Linked DNA regions of Homo sapiens. The protein of the gene in region 5 purifies or fractionates together with the protein of the main gene of each other region. This does not show direct contact. Each region holds a gene or a part of one and is shown on either strand. Other genes may lie near its edges. The genes, in order: TOMM70, GLUD1, GRHL1, TPM4, KLF3, ME2 and ALDH5A1.

Region 1 (3,500 bases), on a different chromosome or scaffold from region 5:
AAATATTTAAGTTGGCTTATTTTAGATATGAAAAGACTAAGAGCCATACAGCTAAATATAATGACTCACATACTTCTTAAAAGTCATCTTATAAATAACCGGGGTTAACTGAATATGGGCTAGGTATTATAGATAATATTAGGGAATTATTTTTGGAGATATATTAGTTGAAGCAGTTATAGCTGCTTTTTAAAAAATCAATAATTTTAAACAAATAGCTCTGAAGACATTTAACACATACATCTTAACTTATACTTCCAAATGAATATTGCCCTTAAGATAATTCCCTGGCCAGGTGCGGTGGCTCACTCCTGTAATCCTAGAACTTTGGGAGGCCGAGGTGGGTGGATCACCTGAGGTCAGGAGTTCGAGACCAACCTGGCCAACATGGTGAAACCCCATCTCTACTAAAAATACAAAAATTAGCCAGGCAAGGTGTTGGGCGCCTGTAGTCCCAGCTACTCAGGAGGCTGAGGCAGGGGGATCACTTGAACCCAAGAGGCGGAGGTTGCAGAAAACAGAGATTGCGCCACTACACCCCAGCCTGGGTGACAAGAATGAAACTCTATCTCAAAAAAAAAAAAAAAAAAATTCCCTTGGGCTGTATTATGATAAATTATGAATAAGTGATGTGACTGTACCTATGAGAATGTGATATTAGAGCTGTGACTAAGAATGGGATTATCTGTATTGAACAGTTTACCAGAGATTATCTGCTGTGGCATATAACTAACCACTTGCTGAAGAAAGAGGATAGTTAAGATTTCATATTTATAGCAGTGCCACCTAAAAACTCCGATAATTAAGATGTAAAATGTAAATCAGTCTGTATCCCCAAAACGTGATAATTTTGTAATAATGAATGAAGTAAATTTTTATAATGAATAATAAGTATACTTTTAACTGCTTAGGTTGACGGTTACCTTAATATAACTGAAGTATCTCCTCACATAGGCATTAACAGATCAACAACAGTTTGGTAAAGCTGATGAAATGTATGATAAATGTATTGATTTGGAACCAGATAATGCTACAACATATGTTCATAAAGGGTATGTATTTTTGTGATTGTTCCAATGAGATAATAAATTTCTTGCATAGTAATAAAATGTATTTATTTTGGCCACTGAGGAAGGGGACTGTGGTAGAGAAGTTAATTGACAAACTTCTTAATGCTCCTAGATGTCTTTTCATTCTTACAGAAATTAGTTAAGGAGGCCAGGCGCAGTGGCTTACACGTAATCCTAGTACTTTGGGAGGCCGAGGCAGGCAGATCATCTGAGGTTGGGAGTTCGAAACCCTCCTGACCAACATGGTGAAACCCGGTGTCTACTAAAACTACAAAAAATTAGCCAGGTGTGGTGGCACATGCCCGATTCCCAGCTACTCAGCAGGCTAAGGAGTGAGAATCACTTGAACCTGGGAGGCAGAGGTTGCAGTGAGCCAAGATTGCACCACTGCTCTCCAGCCTGGGCGGCAGAGTGAGGCTCTGTCCCAAAAAAAACAAAAAGAAAGAAATTAATGTACTATTCTTGCTCTGTGTTAAGGGTTTTAATTTCAAACTGAACATCCTGTCAGCTGTTGGCTTATATCCAAATACGAAGCATACACAAGTGTTCGTGTCCTTGCGTACTTGAATTATCCTAAGAAACTTCACTTAAATTTATATAAAGTGAAAAATAAGGGATGCAAGATTGGTAATAGAGCCTAGACCATTGAACACTTTTTGTAATAAGGAACTTAGACTAGCAAACCAATATAAGCTGAGAAAAAAAACACAATTTGATGCTGATTATATATTGCCTTATAAGTTATAAGTTAACTTATAAGTTCATTGAAGGCAGAAATTGAGTCATATTAATGTGTGTGTATTCCTACTGATACTGGGCCATGGTCACATCTGACATTTTTTTGCATTTGCAGTTTACTTCAACTTCAGTGGAAGCAAGATCTGGATAGAGGTTTGGAACTTATCAGCAAGGCTATTGAAATTGACAATAAATGTGATTTTGCCTATGAAACCATGGGAACTATTGAAGTACAAAGGTAACTTCTGGAGTCTGTTAGGAAATATATGGTAGCTCCATAGATATTTAGCTTTTTGTTCTTATTACGTACATGTTAAAGTCTGTTATGTTCTTTCCTCTTTTCACCTGTATTATTCACGTTGGAAAAAAAAATGTGCTAAGGCAGTGACATAAGGATTGGTAGCCAAGTTGCCAGAAAATCTGGACCCTCCTCCAAAGAAGCATCCAGCCAAATGGCTGGGCAAGTTGCAACATCAACTCAGAGCCCCTGAATTTTCTTTAAAATCAGAGTTGGATAAGAACATTTTTTGCAGCTCTGTCCTTAACCTCTTATTTTGTGTAAGTGTTTATCCAGAGTTGCTCTTAAGATCCACCATTAAAAGGTGACAGCTGTTTTATATATGGGATTTATTGTATACCATCTTAATACTGGTATTGCCATTCATTTGAGTTTCCTACTTTAGGCCAAGTATTAAACTTTAGATGTTTCCTAAGTACTATTTCAATTAATCTTCATCCCCATCTTTATAAAGGTGGAGATTATATGATCCCTAATTTAACTGATGCCCAGAGGGCTTAGGTTTACAAGGTTGCACAGTAAGCCAATAGAGAAGACAGGGTTTGAGCTCATATATCACTGATACCACAGTCACTGATCTTGGCATTATCACTTGTCAGGAAGCAGCATGAGTTTTCTTAATTCCCTATCATTCAGCCCCTCCTGTAGTCCTCTCCCTGCTCTACAGTAGGCAGAATATATATAGGCTGGTAAAAAAAAAATTGTGTTTCTTTTAACCATTCTGTACCCACAGTGGCATGTAAATATTAAGTTTTTTTTTCTTCTTTTTATGAGACAGAGTCTCCAGCCCAGGCTGGAGTACAGTGGCACAATCTTGACTCTGCAACCTCTGCCTCCCAGGTTCAAGTGATTCTTGTACCTCAGCCACCCAAGTAGCTGGGACTACAGGCATGCACCACCATGCCCAGCTAACTTTTTGTATTTGTAGCAGAGATGGGCTTTTGCCATGTTGGCCAGGATGGTCTCAAACTCTCGGCCTCAAGTGATTTGCCCATCTCAGCCTCCTGAAGTGCTGGGATTACAGGTGTGAGCCACTGCACCCAGCCTAAATTATTTCTTAATTGCTAATTTGTTAATGTGAATAAAATATTCTTGTACTAGAATAGGATAGGGTGGTAGTTCTTAATCTTTTTTGAGCGAAGCTGTGGATTCTTCTTAGAATAATGCACACAAAAACACTTTGCTTTTAATTCAAGGCTTTCATAGATCCTGGGTTAACTAAAGACCTCTGATAGGGTTTGATGGAATTTTGTTCACGTTAATTGAACTTTGAAAAAATCCATTCTGAACCTTACAATTAAATAAGTGAATTTGAATAAATGAAATTGCAGATTATCCTAGGATTTTGCAGATCTGCTAGCTGTTGGCCTAATGCCAGAACATGAACTCTTGAA
Region 2 (3,500 bases), on a different chromosome or scaffold from region 5:
TTTTTACTGGAGATGGGGCTTTGCCATGTTGGTCAGGCTGGGCTTGAACTCCTGACATCAGGTGATCCACCCATCTCGGACTCCCAAACTGCTGGTATTACAGATAGGAGCCACTGTGCCCGGCCTCCTACTATTTGTTATAGGAGCTTTTGCCAAACATACAACATTTCTGAAGATATTAATCTTTGTTTGCTTGATGTTTTTGTATCTTACTATTATCTGTGTTTATATTTTCTTTGTGCACAATCTGAATATTCTTTTTATGATATGTAAGTATTTGTCATGTACCCTTTAATTTTCAAGCAGTTTAAACCTATATTTTTTTTAATCTAGAAGGCTTCTAATTTGTTTGAATAGAATATGCATAACTACTTAATAGAATGCTTGCCCTATCAGTATAGTTAATAGAATGTTAATACTTACTGCCGAGCGTGGTGGCTCACACCTGTAATCCCAGCACTTTGAGAGGCCGAGGCAGGTGGATCACGAGGTCAGATCGAGACCATTCTGGCTAACGGGGTTTAGTAGGAATCCCATCTCTACTAAAAACACAAAAAATTTGCCAGGCGTGGTCGCGAGTGCCTGTAGTCCCAGCTACTCAGGAGGCTGAGACAGGAGAATGGTGTGAACCTGGGAAGCAGAGCTTCCAGTGAGCCAAGATCACGCCACTACACCCCAGCCTGGGCAACAGAGCGAGACTCCGTCTCAAAAAAAAAAAAAAAAAAAAAAAAAAGAATGTTAATTGTTACTTAATAATAGAATACTTGTCCTATCAATATCAGTATAGTTAAACAAAATAAGGTCTACTTAAATAGAAAATAAAGTGTATTTTTCTCTACTTTCCTTTCTTAGCATTTCCCCCACAAGTTCCCATGAAATTAAACTATAAAGGCTGGGCATGGTGGCTGGTGCTTGTAATCCCAGCATTTTTGGAGGCTGAGGTGGGAGGATCACTTGAGCCCAGAAGTTCGAGACCACCCTGGGCAATATTACAAGACCCCATCTCTACAAAAAATGAAAACATTATCCAAGCGTGATGGTGCATGCCTGTGGTCCCAACTACTAAGATGGGAGGATCCCTTAAGCCTGGGGGGTTGAGGCTGCAGTGAGCTATGATTGTGCCACTGCACTCTGGCCTGCCACACTCTGGCCTGAGCAACAAAACGAGACCACATCTCAAGAAGAAAGAGAAATGAAATAAAGCTATTCGGATTCATTTTTAGGAAAAAAAAGTCATGAAATAAATGTCATGAAATAACCTAATATAGAAATACAGTAAGTATAGGTAACTCTAAAACTTGACTAGATTTGGCCTGTCTTTGATAATAAAAGGCATTTGGGCCTTTGATGTGCCGCATACCCAGCACTACTGTGAACTTGTGCATCCTTACATGGAGTCTGTTAACGTAAGTTAATATGAGTTAACTATCTCGCTCACACTTTTATAGGAGTGCCTACTGATTCTGAGATATGGTGAATTGAAGTCATCTTCAGCCTGTTAATAGCCTTCATAATTTTTAAAAGGTCTTTCCTCTTCCCCTAAATCTCAAACACATTTTATAGTCTTGAATGGTTTCAGACTTTATTCAGTCATATTTGTCACCCATATCTGCAATATCTCCAGCTTAATTTTATCAGACTTGACAAGTACCTAATAATTCCAAAGGTCAAAAAGTGATTCATTGGAATACTGAAAGAAAACACAGCTTAAACTCTAGTAATTTGATTTATTTGCTTAATGTGCAAAAGCCTCATTGACCCAGGATGCAGTTAAATTGACGTCTTGGCCCAGAAAGCTTTGAAGCCTAGGAGGTAGGCAAAGGGAGTTTTTTCTCTCACTCCTCGGCAAACCTTCAAATTTGATGTTATTTATCTGTTATTTCCTGACTGCCCATTCCACAGAGAGTGTCAGATTGAGGCTCAGACCTGAGCCTGAACCCTGATCCTGTCACATGTGTGTTTAGCATCAGCTTGTAAATTTCTGCAAAACAAAAGAAAAAAAGAGGCTGGGATTTTTATAGGAATTTCATTGAATCTGTACACTAATTTGTGGAGTATTGCCATCTTCCCCACCCTCCCCAAAAAGGTTTTGTCCTTTCACCCAGGCTGGAGTACCAGACAGCAGTCACTGCAACCTTGACCTCCTGGGCTCAAGCAATCCTCTCACCTCACCCTCCCAAGTAGCTAGAACCACAGGGGTGTGCAACTGTGCCTAGCTAATTTTTTAATTTTTTGTGGAGACACGGTCTCATCACGTATCCCAGACTGGTCTCAAACTCCTGAGCTCAAGCAGTCTTCCCACCTCAGCTTCCCAAAATTCTGGGATTATAGGCATGAGCCACTGCACCTGACCAGTATTGCCATCTTAACCATATTAAGCCTTCCAATGCTGAATATGAGATGTCTTTCCATTTATTTAGGTCTCTTGATTTCTTTCAATGATGTTTTGTAGTTCTCATTGTAGAAGTCTTACATAGAAGTCTTACAACTAAATATTTTACTCCTTTTAATGCTATTGTAAGTGACATTGGTCTATAGTTTTCTTATGATGTCTTTGTCTAGTCTTTGTATCAGGACAATTCTAGCCTCATGGAATGAGTTGAGGAGTGTTCCTTCCTCTTCTGCTTTTGGAAAAGCTTTTGAAAGGTCAATGTTCATTCTCTTGTGTGAGTGTAAATATCACCTAAGTTCTGCAGGACCCTGATGTCTCCACCCTTCTCATCCCCTTATATCTCTGTGTACCAAAATTACCCTTTCATCTCCTACTCTATAGTCACATGCTGTTAGAAAAGTTGCTTTTTTAAAAAAGATTAACTTCTGCCTCATACCTGTTCTCTATATAAGAATTTATCTGTTAGGCCAAGCATGGTGGCTCATGCCTGTAATCCCAGCACTTTGGGAGGCTGAGGCGGGTGGATCACCTGAGGTCAGGAGTTCGAGACCAGCCTGGCCAACATGGTAAAACCCCGTCTCTACTAAAAATAAAAAAAAATTAGCCAGGCAGGTACCTGTAATCCCAGCTACTCAGGAGGCTGAGGCAGGAGAATTGCTTGAACCTGGAAGGCGGAGGTTGCAGTGAGCCGAGATCATGCCATTGTACTCCAGCCTGGGCAGCAAGAGTGTAACTCCTTCTCAAAACATAAAAATTAAAAAAAAACAAAAAGAATATATCTGTTATTCAGGAACTACTTGTTTTTTGTTTTTGTTTTTGTTTTGAGACAGAGTCTTGCTGTGTCACCCAGGCTGGAGTGTAGTGGCACGATCTCAGCTCACTGCAAGCTCCGCCTCCCGGGTTCACGCCATTCTCCTGCCTCAGCCTCCCAAGAAGCTGGGACTACAGGCGCCCGCCACCACGCCCGGCTAATTTTTTGTATTTTTAGTAGAGACAGGGTTTCACTGTGTTAGCCAGGATGGTCTCGATCTCCTGACCTTGTGATCCACTCACCTCGGCCTCCCAAAGTGCTAGGATTACAGGCATGAGCACCGCACCCGGCCTCAGG
Region 3 (3,042 bases), on a different chromosome or scaffold from region 5:
AGAAGCTAACAAAAGTGATTTTTAATCAAGTACAATCTTAAAAACTTCATACATAAAAACAGTGGCTCCTCAGTCTACCTTTAAAACTCCCAATCCTAGGAAATTACTGAACTTGCATCAAGACCTCACTACAGCCTATTGCAGAGAAAGTAGACGTGTAACCAGTGATGGCCGTAAGTCCATCTTACGAGGATCTCAGCACGAGGCTGGAATAAACTGACCCCATGCTCCCTGTGGGGATATCAGTAAGAGAGGAAACATGGAAGGCTGCTGTGTTAATTTCCCGTTCCAGCTGTGCACTGGAAAAACGCATGTCATCAGCACTGAGTGCAGATATTTACCAGCCTGTCTCCTAGAGACCGTAGAGATCTTTAAGCTCAAAGTGTGTCCATAATTGGGCTAAAAGCATCTCCCCCAGCTCCCTCTGATGACTGTAGTGTGTTGAATTCATTTAACACATCTTGATAAAGGGCTTGCTTCATGCCAGGCACTGTGGCGGGCACTGGAGTTATGCGCGTCAGTGACACAGTGCTGAATGGAGTTTATTTTGTAGTTAGGAAGACACAGACACCAAAATAAGCAAAGAAGTTGAGGTCATTTTTCAGGTACTGATGAGTGCCATGAAGATTAATAAAGCAGGGAGATGGGGCGTGGGTTTGGGGAGCTGCTGTGCGGTCTCTCAGCCAGGCGCCCCAAGTCCACGGGTGTCACTCAGTGCATCCCTGCCTGCCCACAGCACAGGCAGCGCCGTTCCCACTGTCACTTCCTGCCTCCTAGGATGTCCCCTGGGTTTCTCTTTTCTTGCCTTTTGATGACCCTTCATCATGTCTTAAGAATCATGCAAACTGGCCAGGTGCGGTGGCTCACACCTGTAATCCCAGCACTTTGGGAGGCAGAGGCAGGAGGATCACCTGAGGTCAGGAGTTCGAGACCAGCCTGGCCAACATGGAGAAACCCTGTCTCTACTAAAAATACAAAAAATTAGCCAGGCTTGGTGGCAGGCGCCTGTAATCCCAGCTACTCGGGAGGCTGAGGCAGGAGAATCACTTGAACCAGGGAGGTGGAGGTTGTAGTGAGCTGAGATCCCGCCACTGTACTCCAGCCTGGCATAGCAAGACTCCGTCTCAAAAAAAAAAAAACAACAAAAAACAAACAAACAAAAAACATGCAAATTCTGATTACAGGGAAAGAGGAGAGTAAAGAGGATGCAGAATTACTGGGCCAGCATAACTGTTCATGGCTCACGAGGAACTCATGACAGGTCTTACATGTCAGAACACAAAGTATTATCATCCACTCGTACAGAAAAGAAAAAGGGTTTGTGTGGTGAGAACTTGGAGCTGGGGTCTGGTCTGAAACACGTGTTTGGAAGGTTGGCAGGATCTGCACGTTTGCCACCTGAGGCTCTGTTTCTCAGTGCCACCTTGAGCTTTGCTCTGTGGCTTGAGGTGAAGCTGGTGATGCCAGCCTGAGGATGGTCTGGATGACAAGTGTAACGTTTGATCTAGAGTGAATCAGCTGTTTGTCCTTGGAGCAATTCACCCATTCTCTTTAAAAATATTAAAAATAGCCTCTATGTCCCGAAAGGAAGACAGCCACAGCTCCCCAGAAGCTCATTACAGTGAGGGGCAGCCGGGCTGAGGAGAGCTGGAGGCCCCCAGCACACGAGCTGGGGCTTTTCCATGTCTTTGTGTCTGCGTTTTTGAAAAACAAAAAGTCGAGTGACTATGCATGTGTGTGTGTGTGTGTGTGTGTGTATATATATACATATATATACGTATATATATACATATATATACGTATATATACATATATATACGTATATATATACATATATATACGTATATATACATATGTATATATGTGTGTACATGTATATATATACATATGTACATATATATGTACACATATATATATACATATATATGTACACATATACATATATATGTACACATATACATATACATATATATGTACACATATATATACATATATATGTACACACATATATATACATATATATGTACACACATATATACGTATATATGTACACACATATATACGTATATATATGTACACACATATATACGTATATATATGTACACACATATATATACGTATATATATGTACACATATATATATACGTATATATATGTACACATATATATACGTATATATATGTACACATATATATACATATATATATATTTGTTGTTTGGTTTCTAAAGCCTTGATACAGGGTTTTGTAATTATTTTTCTTTCCTCTTTTAGATCTCAGACAAATACGATGTTCCCCATGACAAGATTGGGAAAATATTCAAGAAGTGTAAAAAGGGGTAAGCAGCCACTGCGTCCTGTGTACCTCGGAAAGTGCTGATGCCCCCCGCAGTGCTAGTGTGACGCACCCCCCAGTGCTGTTGACACCCCCCAGCACCATGTAACACACCGTGCATGCTAGTGACACCCTCCTGTGCCAGTGACACACACCCTGTGCCAGTGTGACACGTGTGCATCGTGCCCAGTCCAGAAGCAGCCAAAGAAACCTGGGTGCTGGAATGTGGCTTTTCTAAATTATATACGAAATTACTTAGATAAAATTGATCTGCCTTGAGGAGATCTTTGTGTATTGTTTCTCCAAGTCACCTTCTTTGCCCTCCACATGCCTGGCAGCAGTGCCATGGCTCCACACTCCAGGGTGTGTGGCCAGCGCCACTGAGGATGGCCAGGGCAGCACCTCCGTGTGTCGAGCCCGTTGGAGCCGGGCACTGGGTTGGGCACGTCCCACGGTGCTGCGCTTGGTCTTCACGTCTTCTTTCTGAGCTGGTCTCAGGGCTTGTTTATATTTATAGACAGGCGGCTGAGGCTCAGAGTTCAAGAGGCTTTTCGGGGCCATGGTTGGTATTCCCTGCCTCTGCAGCCCATGCCCTGCTCTACCCTCCTGCTCAGGATCCTATTTCCAAGTTATGTCACGTTGCTGCTTTGTCTAGAAATTAGTATTTTTAGTTCTTTTTTGTCTGTCTATGATGTTTGGCATGGATAAG
Region 4 (3,500 bases), on a different chromosome or scaffold from region 5:
GCAACAGAGTGAGACCCTGTCTTGAAAAAAAAAAAAAAAAAAAAAAAAAAAAAAAAAAGAGTGACCTTGTTTTCTCCATATTCCTCATGTAGGAAAAAGCATGACCTTTTATTACCCACAGGTCAACCTTAAGAGCTATTCTAAACTAAAGCAAGGTTCCTGTTATAACTAACTGAAATATGAATGGAGATTGATGTTAGCAGTCTCAGGCAATTCTGGAATTCGGGAAAAGAATTCTAAATTCACGTCTTCTGACGTCACAGCACTTTCCCTGTTCATGGAGGCCCGTTCACTCCTTGTACAGTCAGTTTTCTAAGGGCAGGGCGTGGAGGTGAACTTCCTCCCAGGACTGGGAGCTGGATGAACAGTGAAGAGTAAAGCCACGGGAAGCCCCAGTCACCACACTCACAGTGTAACACAGAGAAAAGACACAAGAAAAGGAGGAAATGGAGATCAAAATGTCACTGCCGCTGTTTGAATCTGTAGCTCAAGCCCCATTCAAGGGGAGCCTCATTTTTGACACAGGCTTGCTGGTTTTTCCAAATCCCTGTTGACTCTTAAGCTGCCTAAGCGGTTTACAAGGATGAGCCTCCATTCACAACAATTTCTATTTAAGGAAAAACCATTGGGGATGGGCGCGGTGGCTCATGCCTGTAATTGCAGCACCCTGGGAGGGTGAGGTGGGCAGACTGCCTGAGCCCAGCAGTTCAAGACCAGCCTGGGCAACATAGTGAAACCCTCCCGCTTCTACAAAAAGTACAAAAATGGCCAGGCGTGATGGCTCAAGCCTGTAATCCCTGCACTTTGGGAGGCCAAGGCAGGCGGATCACAAGGTCAGGAGTTTGAGACCAGCCTGACCAACATGGTGAAACCCTGTCTCTACTAAAAATCCAAAAGAAAAATTAGCCAGGTGTGGTGGTGTATGCCTGTAATCTCAGCTACTTGGGAGGCTGAGGCAGGAGAATTGCTTGAACCCGGGAGGCGGAGGTTGCAGTGAGCCGAGATTGCACCACTGCACTCCAGCCTGGGCGACATAGTGAGACTCCGCCTCAAAAAAAAAAAAAAAAAGTACAAAAATTAGCCTTGTGTGGTGGTGCACACCTGTAGTTCCAGCTACTTGGGAGGTCGAGGTGGGAGGATAGCTTGAGCCTTGTAGGTGGAGGTTGCAGTGAACTATGATGGTGTCACTGCACTCCAGCCTGGGTGACAAAGCAAGACCCTGTCTCAAAACAAAAAAACAAAAAAAAATTATTGGCATGCAGATGCCGTTAGCTAACAGCGGTATCTGAGAGCACATGCCCAGTTTGCTTTTGTTTTCACGTCTTCAGAAAAGCATCCTGTAGGCATAATTTTCTTTTTGTAATAAGCTTTTCATTTGTGAGTGAGAGAGGCTAACCACCCACTTTGTGTTTCAGGCTATGGTTAAGGGCACACAGCTACAGCTCAAAGGCAGCAAGTGGAGAAAATGAGAATGAGGGGGCATGAAGAGGAGGACTGCCCGTCTTTATTTCGGTTGTAGAGTCACAGACACATCAGAAGAAGGCTCTGACGTTCAAACCAGAAGGCAGGCCACCGGAGCTCCTAGAAGCCCACAGGGGCGTAGGAGGCACCATGTGAGAAGGACAGAGGGCAGCGACCTGGCTGCCTCTCAGAGAGAGGTCATGTCGTTGAGAGCGTGGTCCAGTTCCTCGCTGATAGCTTTGTACTTGAGCTTCTGAGCGTATAACTCATCTAGAGGGCGGAGGTCCCCAGGGAGACAGTTCAGAAGTACAGGGGACAGAAGGCAAGGGTCGGAATGGAGTGCCACAGATGAACCACAAGAGGAAGAAAAAAACACGTGAGCAAACAAAGCACAGACTAGGAGAAAGCTGTGTTCCATGTGAAACAGATGAAGAAAACCAAAGATCTATGGAGTTGATCTCTAAGTGGTTTGAGGTTCTGCAGGGGGATTAGCCACAATGAAGCTTCAAAACAGTGGTAACCAGAAGTGACAGAGCTTCCCCCCACTGGTCCCCACCCCTCAGTTTATTTCGGATTTCCAATGACGTCACCCTGTCCAAAGGTCGTATTTTGGAATGGGGCATTTTCCCTTATATGGGAACCTCACTTCCCCAAAAAAACATTGGAAGATATGGTCTGAAGAATGTGTCCTTTCTGGGTGGGATGGGCAGTTTGGAAGATTCCATTTGAACCCCAAGATTCTGGAATTTCTGAGGCCGAATGTTAAACACTGGAACTCTTGAAAAAATTCTGGGAGAAGTGGGCCCCAGACTTGCAGACTAGTCTTTATTGCAGTCCCTACACTTTCTGTATTTCTGTTTTTTTTTTTAAATACTATGATAAGCTTTGAGCTCCCTGGGACAGAGCTTCTGCAAAAATGCAAGGCATGTAAAAAAAAAATGCAAGGCATCTATCAGAAATGAGCAAACAGAAGGAAATTGTGAAGTTTTTTTTTTTTTGAGACGGAGTCTGGCTCTGTCACCCAGGCTGGAGAGCTGTGGCGTGATCTTGGCTTACTGCAACCTCCGCCTCCCAGGTTCAAGGGATTCTCCCTGCCTCAGCCTCCCCAGTAGCTAGGATTACAGGCGTGCACCACCACGCCTGGCTAATTTTTTCTATTTTTGGTAGAGACGGGGTTTCACCATGTTGGCCAGGTTAGTCTCAAACTCCTGATTTCAAGTGATCCGCCCGCCTCGGCCTCCCAAAGTGCTAGGATTACAGGCTTGAGCCACTGCGCCTGGCCTGAGATTTTTAATTTATTATTAATATTTTTTTAATCAGAGAGAGCCATACTCTTTTCTCTATACTTGCTCATGGGACTAACTAAGCAGAGATATTTTACCTCCTGAAAGTGGCAATTCAATTAGCCAGGTGTGGCGGCACACGCCTGTAGTCCCAGCTACCTGGGAGGCTGAGGCAGGAGAATCACTTGAACCCGGGAGGCGCAGGTTGCAGTGAGCCGAGATGGCGCCACTGCACTCCATCCAGCCTGGGAGACAGAGCCAGACTCCGTCTCATAGAAAAAAAAAAAAAAAAAAAAAAGGGCCATTCAAGCCTGAATGCTTTGCATTATCCTATTCCAGTGTTCCAGGACATCCAGATATGACATCACTATGCGCTTTACTTTCCTAAGGCAAACAAAGCCCAACCCAGCCCCTCCACAAACATTCCCCAACTGTCCGTGGATGTGTCCCAGAGGGGAAGGCAGGGCAAGGCAAACATTTAGATGGTAACCTCATACCTTCCAGGTCATCAATTGTCTTTTCCAGTTTTGCAACCGTTCTCTCTGCAAATTCAGCACGGGTCTCAGCCTAGATAAGAAGAAAGGAGTTACTATCATGGCTTCAAGACCAGCCCCAGGAGAAACCAGAGCTCGCTGGGTGCCACCACACTCACCTCTTTCAGTTTGTCAGACAGAAGTTTAATTTCTTCTTCATATTTGTCCTCCTTTTCAGAATACTGTGGGAGAAACCAAAACACTGCTTTAAGAAAAGGAGGCC
Region 5 (3,500 bases):
TGACTGGTTCTTGTGATGCCCACCTCTGACTCCTAATGATAATGGCCCCCAAGCCTGTGCTATCACCTGTCTTAGAATTTTGCCAGGTATCGGCCTTAATGTTTGACACAGGAATCATCTTAGGATTAAATTTCAGATTTTTCATCTGCAGTAGTGACCACATTGATCTTAGTTTTAATATTTTTGAGACCGCCTCTCATAGCATTTTTAATGTTGAGACCACCTCTTTGAGCATTTTTTTAAGGTCACATATATATCGAAATCTAAACTATTTTGTAAAGCCCATGTAATTGTTAAGTGCCTTGTTAGCATATTTTTCTTAATTCATGTTTCAAGTAAATGGACTTATTTGGCTGTTGACACGTTTTCCTTTTCTTTTCTAATAGTCATACCCATCTAATTACATGGAATCCATGAAGCCTAACAAGTATGGGGTCATCTACTCCACACCATTGCCTGAGAAGTTCTTTCAGACCCCAGAAGGTCTGTCGCACGGAATACAGATGGAGCCAGTGGACCTCACGGTGAACAAGCGGAGTTCACCCCCTTCGGCTGGGAATTCGCCCTCCTCTCTGAAGTTCCCGTCCTCACACCGGAGAGCCTCGCCTGGGTTGAGCATGCCTTCTTCCAGCCCACCGATAAAAAAATACTCACCCCCTTCTCCAGGCGTGCAGCCCTTCGGCGTGCCGCTGTCCATGCCACCAGTGATGGCAGCTGCCCTCTCGCGGCATGGAATACGGAGCCCGGGGATCCTGCCCGTCATCCAGCCGGTGGTGGTGCAGCCCGTCCCCTTTATGTACACAAGTCACCTCCAGCAGCCTCTCATGGTCTCCTTATCGGAGGAGATGGAAAATTCCAGTAGTAGCATGCAAGGTAAATTCCGCCACTGCTCCATGCTGCTGCACTTGCTTAGCGTACTGGCGCTTCACCAGATGGGGTGGGTGAGGAAGCATGGGGGCAAGAGCTGTTGAACTCTTCAAAGGAAATACTCATCTGCCTAAGGCATTTCCTTCCCCCGCCCCCCCAAAGTGTTGATACTGGAAGAGATCCCAAGAATCAGGCTGTCTGTTTGATACCATGACATGATTACTTTCACTATGTAATGGTCAACTTGGGGATAGAAAGAATCTTGACTTTATGTTGCTTTCTTGAATACCAACATGGTTCTAGGTACAAAAGGCATTTAATAAATCCTTTTTGATTGTGGTGAAAACTAATGGTGATCAAAAGCTACCTTGTTTATCAGCTGGTCATAGAGGACTAAGGGGTTGAAAGGAAATAATCCAGAATTATAAGAACGAATCATTTCAGGGCTGGTGTCTTATAATCTAGGTCCCTATATTTGCTGCTTACTGGCAAAATAATGGTCAGGAGAGGTGAGAATCTCCCACAGATTTGTTCCTGCTATAGTCTGCCAAAGGCAAATAAACCTGTCATATCTGTGTTGTAGGTAGGAGCTATGCAGTAAGCTTTTAAAAGCTGAAATTGGTAAACTGTACGTGAAGTGACTTTTCTATTTTTATTTTTTAGTACCTGTAATTGAATCATATGAGAAGCCTATATCACAGAAAAAAATTAAAATAGAACCTGGGATCGAACCACAGAGGACAGATTATTATCCTGAAGAAATGTCACCCCCCTTAATGAACTCAGTGTCCCCCCCGCAAGCATTGTTGCAAGAGTAAGTATATTTAGGTCTACCCAGCATTTGCATAGTAGTGTGCATCTTGGAACCTGGAGCAGAAGCACAAGATTTCACACGTGTGATGTGGTGTGGATGACCAGGAACGGCTTGTGATCTGTGGCCGCCACTGGTCCAGTACCACTGGTCAAGATGGGAGAATCTCTCCAAAAACAATATGCTGTTACACTGACAACGTTATGACAAAAGTTACATCAAGTTTTCATGGAATCAGTCATCCATGATTTTGCACCTTACCACATGAATTATTTTTGTTTTTTTTCCATTCTTCCAGGCTATGTATACTTAGTTTTTCCATTATGAGAATCCTTGTATAGATTAAACTTGGTGTTCTGTGGATCATGTAAAGTTTTCATGTGGACACACATAGTCCTTACAGAGTGTATAGTATCCTGTAGAATTGCTATCCAGTAGGAAGGCTGTGCAGTGTTGGTCAGCATCCAAGCACCTGAATGGTGGTTTCTTGTAGGTCTAACATGGTATAATGTGGTAGTTGCCACACACAGCTTCAGTAACCTCATTTGTGGGATCCTGCTGTAGATAACCTTGACCTCCACCAGTGATTACACTGAAGGCTGGGTTTGTAGTTGCTAAGAAGATGGTTTTCGGGTCCAACAAGGATCCCACCTCTGCTCTCTGCCATATGTATGATCTTGGACTAGTCACTTAATCTTGCTGCCCCATTTCTGTTTTCATTATTGATTGTAGTTGTGATTGTCTTGTGTTATGGTGCTTCAGCATTGGATTCAGCAGCCAGCTTCCTAGTACGAAGGCAACGATTACCTCCACAGGGTCCCTTCCATTGTCCTCCTGCATCATTTTCCTCCAACTTGAATAAATGTTCTACCCACCTTTCTCCTTTATTTTCTCTACCCCCTGTACCCCGCTCCCTCTCACAATTAACTCTACAGCAGAATGTGAATTCTCTGATTTTAGAATAACTATTTTATGGTAACTTCAAATATATCCTAGTTGTATCCACATTCAGCTTGGGTAGGTACCTTCATAGTAGCTCATGGATTAATTGTCCACTGCACCCAATCATAGTCATTTTTGGTTTGGGTTGTCATATGCTCCCCAATAGATGAAGAAGAGAATAACTCTTAGCCGACTTCATCAGCAGGTAGGGAGAGAGTCTCTGATGGAGTTATATTTCATTATTCCTCACAATTGCATAGTGCCCTCTTACCTCAAAAAAAACCTTCCCAGGTGTTTTCAAAGGAATTATTTTATTCCTCCACAACAAGCCTGTGGGAGTCGGAGCAAAAGGCAAAGTGATTACCTGAGACATTAGATAACTCGCCAATATTCACCCTGCTAACAACTGAGGGGCCTTGGGCTTGATCTCCTGCTTCCGAATCAGGGCTTTTCCTGCCATCTTGTCATATCCAACCCATTGCATCTGCTCATGCACTCAAGTGAAAGGAAAAAATGACTAGGCAAAATGGACACATCTTAGAGGTGGAATTAACTCTTTTTTTATGTTGAGGGATGTTTCTGGCAAGGTAACTAGCAACGTGGCCTGCACTTATAGTTGTTCCTGCATGGGTGATGAAAGAGATGCTATAAAACTAAATAAAACCAACTGCCTCCAAGGGAGGGATCCGTTGACTGGACAAGTGTTATTCCAAAGTCTGGGTTATTATGAGTTGCAACGTAAAACATTACATAAGAAGATTTGAAGGCAATATTCTGTGCTCTGAATGCTGCTCAAAAGAAAATACTTTTATTTTAAGTAATATTCTTTTGATGATCTCAAGCTCAGTGGCTTTTAATGATTAATGAGTAATATGCTTAT
Region 6 (3,967 bases), on a different chromosome or scaffold from region 5:
AAATGGGAACGTTAAACTACAAGACCTATTTAATAGGCTATTTTAAGATTTAAATTAGATAATTCATTAAGATGCTTATCACAATGCCCTCTAGGTGCTCTAGAAAGGCTAGTTATCATAAGCATTACTATTAGTAGTTGTAGACTAAGGTGGTCACAAGGTGCCTTCTAAATGCCTGCTTGTTTCTGCATCAACATCTTTTAATGATCAAATTAATATAAGAGGCTATAAGGATAATCATGATTAACATTTATTCAAAATATTTCAAATCAAATCTCAAAGTCAAGAATGAGAATCTGGATGGTATACAAATACAGGCAACATCAAATGTCATCCTAAACAAGTATATACAGAATATATTTTTTATCACTTTTGAAATTTGTACATATTGATCAAAGGAGGTACAATATGCCACCATAAAATCAAAATCGTAACTTTCAAATAAAATAGTTAATTTCTAATAAAAGTTATCTTTTTATAAAGTCAATGTAATTTTTATTTAGTGTGAATTTTGTCCTGTAATATTAATCCTTAGTAAATATAGGTTTTAATGTTATTTGTGTTTTAAAATACGGCTAGTTCACCGGGCATGGTGGCTCACTCCTGTAATCCCAGCACTTTGGGAGGCCGAAGGAGGTGGAGCACTTGAGGTCAGCAGTTCGAGACCAGCCTGAAAAACATGGTGAAACCCTGTCTCTACTCAAAATACACACACACACAAATTAGCCGGGCATGGTGGTGCATGCCTGTAGTCCCAGCTACTCAGAAGGCTGAGGCAGAAGAAGCGCTTGAACGCGGAAGGCAGAAGTTGCAGTGAGTGGAGATCGCAACACTGCACTCCAGCCTGGGCAACAAGAGCAAAACTCCGTCTTAAAGAGAATAAAATATGTCTAGTTTGTCTGAAATTCACCAAAATCAATTAGAGTTTTTAACTTAATATACAGATTATACATACATAGCTGTAAGTTTTTAATTTTACAAAAGAAGTTCCCAAATGGTAAATGGGTTTTTTCCTTTATGAATATTTTGTTTTCATAAATATATTAAAAGACAAAAACATATAAACACCCTCTAAGGGTGTCACCCATAAGCAGTTCTCAGAAATAGCTACTAAGCATAAATATATTATTCTCAAGAGAATATTTCTACAGAAGCATAGCCCAACATTTCCTATTAATGCATGATAAAAGTCATATTAGGAGCTAGGCGCGGTCGCTAACGCCTGTAATCCCAGCACTTTGGAAGGTCAAGGTGGGTAGATCACTTGAGGTCAGGAGTTCGAGACCAGCCTGGCCAATACGGCGAAGCCCCCGTCTCTATTAAAATTACAAAAATTAGCTGCCCTCAGGTGATCCACCCACGTCGGCCTCCCAGAAGTGCTGGAATTACATGCGTGAGCCACCGCGAACGGCCTATATGTATGTTTTTAAAAACAACTGTTTCTCTCATCTAATTTACAGAGTATTTGTAAATTGAAAATCAAAATTATGGGTACAACATCGCAATTAGCTTAACAACATGAGCAATGCTTAAGGAGTATACACGTTTAAGGGAGTGGGGGTGGAGGATGCAGCTATGAAGTTAGACCACTTGAGTTTGAATCTAGGCTTTGTCACGTTAAAACTGTGGTCTTAGGCAAGTTACTTAACCTACCTAAACCTTAGTTTCCTGGTTTGTAAAGTGGAGGCAGTAACAGTATCAACCTCAAAGGGTTATTTTGAGATAATCCGTGTAGAAACTAGCGCTCTGCCTGTCACTAGCAATTAATACATGCTACTATTGTTATCGTTATCAACTGCAACACTAACAGAAATAGCAATGCTATTAACCTCTTTGCTTAGAGGTGATAGCCACAAGCATCAGGAAGGTAAATCCACAGACAGAAGATGATAAAACGTTTTGTAAGAAAGCACGTGTTAATTTGATCACGCTTCTCACCACAAGCAACGTAAATTTTCTAGAATTATCTCTGGAACCAAAAAAGAAAGTCGAAACCTAGGACCACCTAGGTAACACCACATGCAGAGATAGTTATCGCCAGCGTGAAAGAAACACCTGCCAATCCCGGTCCACAGATGGCATTTAATAATAGACGGAATCGGTCCAATCTCAGAACTCTCCAGCCCGCAGCAAGTCTTTTTTTAAAGGGAGGAGCCACACACACAGCCTAACTCCTGCCGTTAACTCGGCCCGACTGAATAAAGGAGATAGGCTTGCCAAAGGGTTTCCAGCCACAGAAGTCCTTTTGTGGAGGGGTGCAGAAAGAGCGAGAAAGAGATGCTGGCGTTTGGAGGCCCAGGGCCTCGCTCCCGGGCGAGAGCGGGGCGCCCAGGCACCAGCCGGCGGAGGAACCTGGAAATCGCGCGCCGGGTAGAGCCGCGGCCGCTGGAACCTGGGTCGCCGCGATGTAGCCGGTCCCTCGCCCTCAGCCCGGACTCCGCAGACCGCTTCCCTTCCCCCAGCCCCCACCGCCAGGCCGGGAACGGCGGGGGCCGCACGCGCGGAGGCCGGAGGCGCGGCAGCGCTGGGCTCTCGGGGCCGGGCCAGGGGAGGCCGGCGCCCGCTCCTCTCCCGGACCCCCGCCCGGGCCCCACCGCGCCGGGCCTTACCAGAGGTCTCGCGCCGCGACAGGTGGTACACCCGGCGGAGAGGCCGCGCCCTGCCGCCCGCCCTGGCGATGCTCAGCTCCCGCGCCGCCCGGCCCTCCCCTTCTGCGAGCCTCCCGGAGCCGCCGTCAGCTCAGGCTCACACTGGCGCGGGCGGCCCCACACGCAGAGGCGGCCCGAAGAGCGGCCGAGAGAGGGGAGGGCGCGAGGAGCCGGCCAGCCGCGGGGCCCGGAAGGCGTGGCCCACGGTGGAGACGGACGGGCTCGCGGGCCAATTGGAGGCAGGAACCGGCCGGAGGGGCGGGCTCCGTCTGGAGGCTTAGCTGCCGGCGCTGGGGTTCCTGTCCTCCGCGCCTTCCTCAACCCAGCTCCTGGAGGTTACGGTTCTGAGGCGGGGCGGGCGGCCTCGTGGACGCGATGCTGAGGATGTGAGAAGTGCAGTGCGGAGGAGGAGGTGGAGCTCCGCCGCTCCATGAAGGAAGCCGGGGCTGGCCGACCGCGCCCCCCAGCACTCCTGGCCCGGGGGTCCCAGTCTCCGAACCCGCGGAGGCCAGGGAAGCTGGGAGTTGGGGTCTGTCCTGCCTGAGCCACAGAGGAAGGGGGAGAACGGGAGGGCAGGAGACGGCAAAGGAAGGAAGAAGAGGACCCAGGAAATGCGAGGCTTCCGCACTTCAGCGACGCTTTCACTTTCCGAGCTGTTTTGTGTGCTTAGGACTTGCTCTTCTGCAGAATTCTTTGCCACTCCTCATGGCTGCTGGCAAGGTTATTGGCCTGCGGTGAATTTACCAATCACCTCCACTGTCACAGTCACCATAAATAGATGCTCAATGTTCTGCCTCAGAAAAGCACCGGAACACTTAATTGTCTTGTCCTTGAAAGCCGCAGGGACCGTGCCTTCCAACATCCCTACCCCCGCCCTCCCAACGGTTGTGACATGGGAGGATATTTCTTCACCCTTATTTCAGAAAATGTTATCACCCAAAACTCTTTACTATAATGAGCTTGTGTACTCTTAAAACAAGGCATGGTAATGACAATTTCAAAAATAAGATGTAAAATATAAAAAAAGAGGCAAGGCAGAATAAAATTAAAAGTGATGGAAATGTAGGATTGAGAAGATGGAGTGGAAGTAGGGAAGAGTGAATTGCTCCCTCCTAAACTCTGACAATTAAATAAAATCTGGGGCAATCGCCCCTCTCTGAACATTGAAGGGTGGGGCCTGTGAGGAGGAAACTCCAGTTAGGTGATAATCCATAGGTGTGGTTGCTATAATAACCACCGCAGGCAAGGAGAGGTTATAAATATGAATGACCTAAAGTAACTCTGCTTGCCAGGAACTTACAAGATGCAGCAGGTTGGAT
Region 7 (3,500 bases), on a different chromosome or scaffold from region 5:
AGTAGGTATCTAGGCAGACTACAGCTTCAAGAGCGAGGCTAGGTACCTCAGGGTAGGGCTCTCTCGACTTTGCCTTTTGGGGAAGGGAGCTGCCCTTATGTGAAGCCTGCAAGTTAGAATAAACCCAAGCTTAAAACAGCAAAGACCACTCATGCCACACATCCCCAAATTGATCAACCCAGTCCTTGTGTGTGTGTGTGTCCCCCAAACACACTGCTGGAGCTGAGAAGGAGCTGACCAGGTTAGTTTCGACAACTCAGTCCTTCATTCAGAAAGATGAACAACCAAGGATCATGATGGGAAAACCACCAGCACATAAGAGGAAAGGTCAGGAAGAACAAACAGAATAGTCCCTGAAGGAAGCAGATAAATTAGGGAACTGGAAGGAAATTTTCTAAAAATCTCATAGTGTCCTGCAAGAGTTTTGGGAAGATAGTACATCTGTAAACTGTTAATAAGAAGTATGTTCTAGGCTTAAAGTATAATAATAATAAAAAAAGAAGTATGTTCTAGGAAATGAAGCAATGAAAACAAAGAGTCTGTAGAAATTAGACATATGACTGTCACAAGATTCGGTACCTGAAGTAGATGATAAAATTTCGGAGATCTTATGGAGTTTAAAGCAAACTATAGAGAGGCAAAAAATATAATAGAAATGCAAAAAAAAATCAGAACTAATCTGAACTCCTGTTAATACCCGTCCAGTAGTAGGAGTTCTGGAGTGAAATAATTGGGAAAATGGAGGAAGTGACATTACCAAGTAAATAATAGATGGAAACTTCTCAGAGTTAGGGGAAAATAATTATTCTGCAGATTGAAAGATTTCACTGCTTACCAAGTAGGATGAATGAAAAGGGAATATATATATATCTTCTCTATATATATATATTCTATATATATATATCTTCTATATATATATTCTATATATATATCTACTATATATATATTCTATATATATCTACTATATATTCTATATATATATCTAATATATATATATGTGTGTGTGTATATATATATATATATATATATATATATATATAGTATTGCTAAAATTTTAGAATATCAGAGCATAGAAGATCCTAGGAGATTTCAGAGAGGAAAAAGCTATCAAGAAGAAAAAGGGTGAGAACCATTTTTGGCTCAAACTTCCTCAGCAACACCGGAAGTGGAGAAGTGCACTCAAAGTTCTGAAAGTTATTTTGTATCAGAATTCTGTACTCAAGCAAATTATCAATCAGGTGGAGTACAAAACACCAGAAACTTGGTGTATGAAAATTCAGAAACTAGACCACATCCAGTGCATCTTTTTTAAAACAACTACTTGGCCAGGCCTCGTGGCTCACTCCTGTAATCCCAGCACTTTGGGAGGCCAAGGCGGGTGAATCACGAGGTCAGGAGTTCGAGACCAGCCTGGCCAAGATGATGAAACCCTGTCTCTTCTAAAAATACAAAAATTAGCCGGGCGCGGTGGTGGGTGCCTATAATCCTAGCTACTCGGGAGGCTGAGGCAGGAGAATCGCTTGAACCTGGGAGGCAGAGGTTGCAGTGAGCCAAGGTCATGCCACTGCACTCCAGCCTGGGTGACAGAGCGAGATTCCATCTCAAAAACAAATAAATAAATAACAACTACTTGAGATTATGTGTGTCAGAAAGCAACAAAAACTCAGTTCAGGAAATAGGACAACATGGGATCCAAGAAGCTAGAAATAACCGCAGAATGCAATGAAAGCAAATCCAAGCAAACGGCTGAGCCGCAGGCCTAGAAAGAAGCGAATATATATTAGACCATTCAACAAATAGGAAGATCAAACAGCTAGAAGATATCAAAGACCAAGGAGGAAGGTGGCACTCTTGCTTCTGAATCTCTGCAAATGTGGTTCCTTCTACAAAAGGAAACCAGCATGCTTTATTGTTAACCTACTTTTTTTGAAAAAGAAAAAAAAATGGAACTAGTTATAGTTTTCTGCAGTTTAAACATTCTAAAAGATTGTATCATGTGGAAAGCTTTTTTTCTTCCTCATTACACAGGTGGAGAAACAGGTGAATGATGCCGTTTCTAAAGGTGCCACCGTTGTGACAGGTGGAAAACGACACCAACTTGGAAAAAATTTCTTTGAGCCTACCCTGCTGTGCAATGTCACCCAGGACATGCTGTGCACTCATGAAGAGACTTTCGGGCCTCTGGCACCAGTTATCAAGTAAGATCCTCCAGCCAGCGGGGAGATGGGAGGAAGAATAGAAGAGAACATAGGAAACCCTGAAAGAGATTCCTGGGCTGCTTTGAGGTCTGGCCAGGAGGCAGACAGTTGTGTTGAGTCCATTGAAGAGCAGAGTGCAATTTATGGGTTTTTAAAAAAATCATAACTTATTTGGACCATAAAATTTATCAAATTCTATTTTTTTTTTCTTTTTGAGATGGAGTTTCACTGTGTTGCCCAGGCTGCAGTGCAATGGTGCGATCTTGGCTCACTGCAACCTCTGCCTCCTTGGTTAAAGCAATTCTCCTGCCTCAGCCTCCAGAGTAGCTAGGACTACAGGCACCCACCACCATACCAGGCTAATTTTTTGTATTTTTAGTAGAGATGGGGTTTCACCATGTTGGCCAGGCTGGTCTCGAACTCCTGACCTCAGGTAGTCCTGCGTTGGCCTTCCAAAGTGCTGGGATTATGGGAGTGAACCACCATGCCTGGCCTCAAATTCTTTAATTTACTTTTTCTTACTTTCTGCTGAACTCTTTTTTTTTTTTTTCTTGAGATGGAGGATGGAGTCTTGCTCTGTCACCCAGGCTGGAGTGCAGTGGCATGATCTCAGCGATTCTCGTGCTTCAGCCTTCCGAGTAGCTGGGACTACAGGCACGCGCACCATGCCTGGCTAATTTTTTGTAATCTAGTAGAGATGTGGTTTCACCATGTTGGCCAGGCTGTTCTTGAACTCCTGACCTCAAGTGATCCGCCTGCCTCTGCCTCCCAAAGTGCTGAGATCACAGGCATGAACCACCGTGCTCAGACCTGAACTCATTTTCCTTCTTAATGTATTATACCTCAAAGGATTCTTTCATTGGCCTCCATAGGACATGAACTTTCTGTGTCGTTTTGTGGTCTTTTATCTCCCATTCACAAGTAGATAATAATTTACCTGGATAAAATTTTAGGTTCAACCCTTTGGAGATATTACTCCTTTATCCACTTTTTTTTTCTTTTTTTTGTTTTTTGTTTTGATATGGAGTCTAACTCCGTCATCCAGGCTGGAGTGCAGTGGTATGATCTCGGCTCACTGCAACCTCCACCTCCTGGGTTCAAGCGATTCTCTTGCCTCAGCCTCCCGAGTAGCTGGGACTACAGGCATGTGCCACCACACCTGGCTAATTTTTATACTTTTAATAGAGACAGGGTTTCACCATGTTGGCCAGGCTGGCCTCAAACTCCTTACCTCAAGTGATCCAACAGCCTCAGCCTCCCAAAGTGCTGGGATTACAGGTGTGAGTCACCACGCCCGGCCTC

What was found.
Region 1: the proteins of KLF3 (region 5) and TOMM70 purify together in Homo sapiens (affinity purification with mass spectrometry, with the first as the bait; one large-scale study listed by BioGRID). This does not show direct contact.
Region 2: the proteins of KLF3 (region 5) and GLUD1 purify together in Homo sapiens (affinity purification with mass spectrometry, with the first as the bait; one large-scale study listed by BioGRID). This does not show direct contact.
Region 3: the proteins of KLF3 (region 5) and GRHL1 purify together in Homo sapiens (co-immunoprecipitation; one large-scale study listed by IntAct). This does not show direct contact.
Region 4: the proteins of KLF3 (region 5) and TPM4 purify together in Homo sapiens (affinity purification with mass spectrometry; one large-scale study listed by BioGRID and IntAct). This does not show direct contact.
Region 6: the proteins of KLF3 (region 5) and ME2 purify together in Homo sapiens (affinity purification with mass spectrometry, with the first as the bait; one large-scale study listed by BioGRID). This does not show direct contact.
Region 7: the proteins of KLF3 (region 5) and ALDH5A1 purify together in Homo sapiens (affinity purification with mass spectrometry, with the first as the bait; one large-scale study listed by BioGRID). This does not show direct contact.

The regions. Positions count from the first base shown.
Region 1 is NC_000003.12:100,366,590-100,370,089, reverse strand, and holds part of TOMM70 (mitochondrial import receptor subunit TOM70), read left to right. Parts: intron 1-954; coding exon 955-1,052; intron 1,053-1,923; coding exon 1,924-2,046; intron 2,047-3,500. UniProt on the Homo sapiens protein: Acts as a receptor of the preprotein translocase complex of the outer mitochondrial membrane (TOM complex). Recognizes and mediates the translocation of mitochondrial preproteins from the cytosol into the mitochondria in a chaperone dependent manner.
Region 2 is NC_000010.11:87,070,844-87,074,343, reverse strand, and holds part of GLUD1 (glutamate dehydrogenase 1, mitochondrial isoform a precursor), read left to right. Parts: intron 1-3,500. UniProt on the Homo sapiens protein: Mitochondrial glutamate dehydrogenase that catalyzes the conversion of L-glutamate into alpha-ketoglutarate. Plays a key role in glutamine anaplerosis by producing alpha-ketoglutarate, an important intermediate in the tricarboxylic acid cycle.
Region 3 is NC_000002.12:9,996,693-9,999,734, forward strand, and holds part of GRHL1 (grainyhead-like protein 1 homolog), read left to right. Parts: intron 1-2,272; coding exon 2,273-2,337; intron 2,338-3,042. UniProt on the Homo sapiens protein: Transcription factor involved in epithelial development. Binds directly to the consensus DNA sequence 5'-AACCGGTT-3'.
Region 4 is NC_000019.10:16,093,495-16,096,994, reverse strand, and holds part of TPM4 (tropomyosin alpha-4 chain), read right to left. Parts: intron 3,460-3,500; coding exon 3,397-3,459; intron 3,312-3,396; coding exon 3,242-3,311; intron 1,732-3,241; coding exon of another isoform or gene 1,649-1,731; exon of another isoform or gene 251-1,648; intron 1-250. UniProt on the Homo sapiens protein: Binds to actin filaments in muscle and non-muscle cells. Plays a central role, in association with the troponin complex, in the calcium dependent regulation of vertebrate striated muscle contraction.
Region 5 is NC_000004.12:38,688,199-38,691,698, forward strand, and holds part of KLF3 (Krueppel-like factor 3), read left to right. Parts: intron 1-386; coding exon 387-873; intron 874-1,530; coding exon 1,531-1,681; intron 1,682-3,500. UniProt on the Homo sapiens protein: Binds to the CACCC box of erythroid cell-expressed genes. May play a role in hematopoiesis.
Region 6 is NC_000018.10:50,877,951-50,881,917, reverse strand, and holds the start of ME2 (NAD-dependent malic enzyme, mitochondrial isoform 1 precursor), read right to left. Parts: upstream 2,801-3,967; 5' UTR 2,610-2,800; intron 1-2,609.
Region 7 is NC_000006.12:24,525,969-24,529,468, forward strand, and holds part of ALDH5A1 (succinate-semialdehyde dehydrogenase, mitochondrial isoform 2 precursor), read left to right. Parts: intron 1-2,028; coding exon 2,029-2,198; intron 2,199-3,500. UniProt on the Homo sapiens protein: Catalyzes one step in the degradation of the inhibitory neurotransmitter gamma-aminobutyric acid (GABA).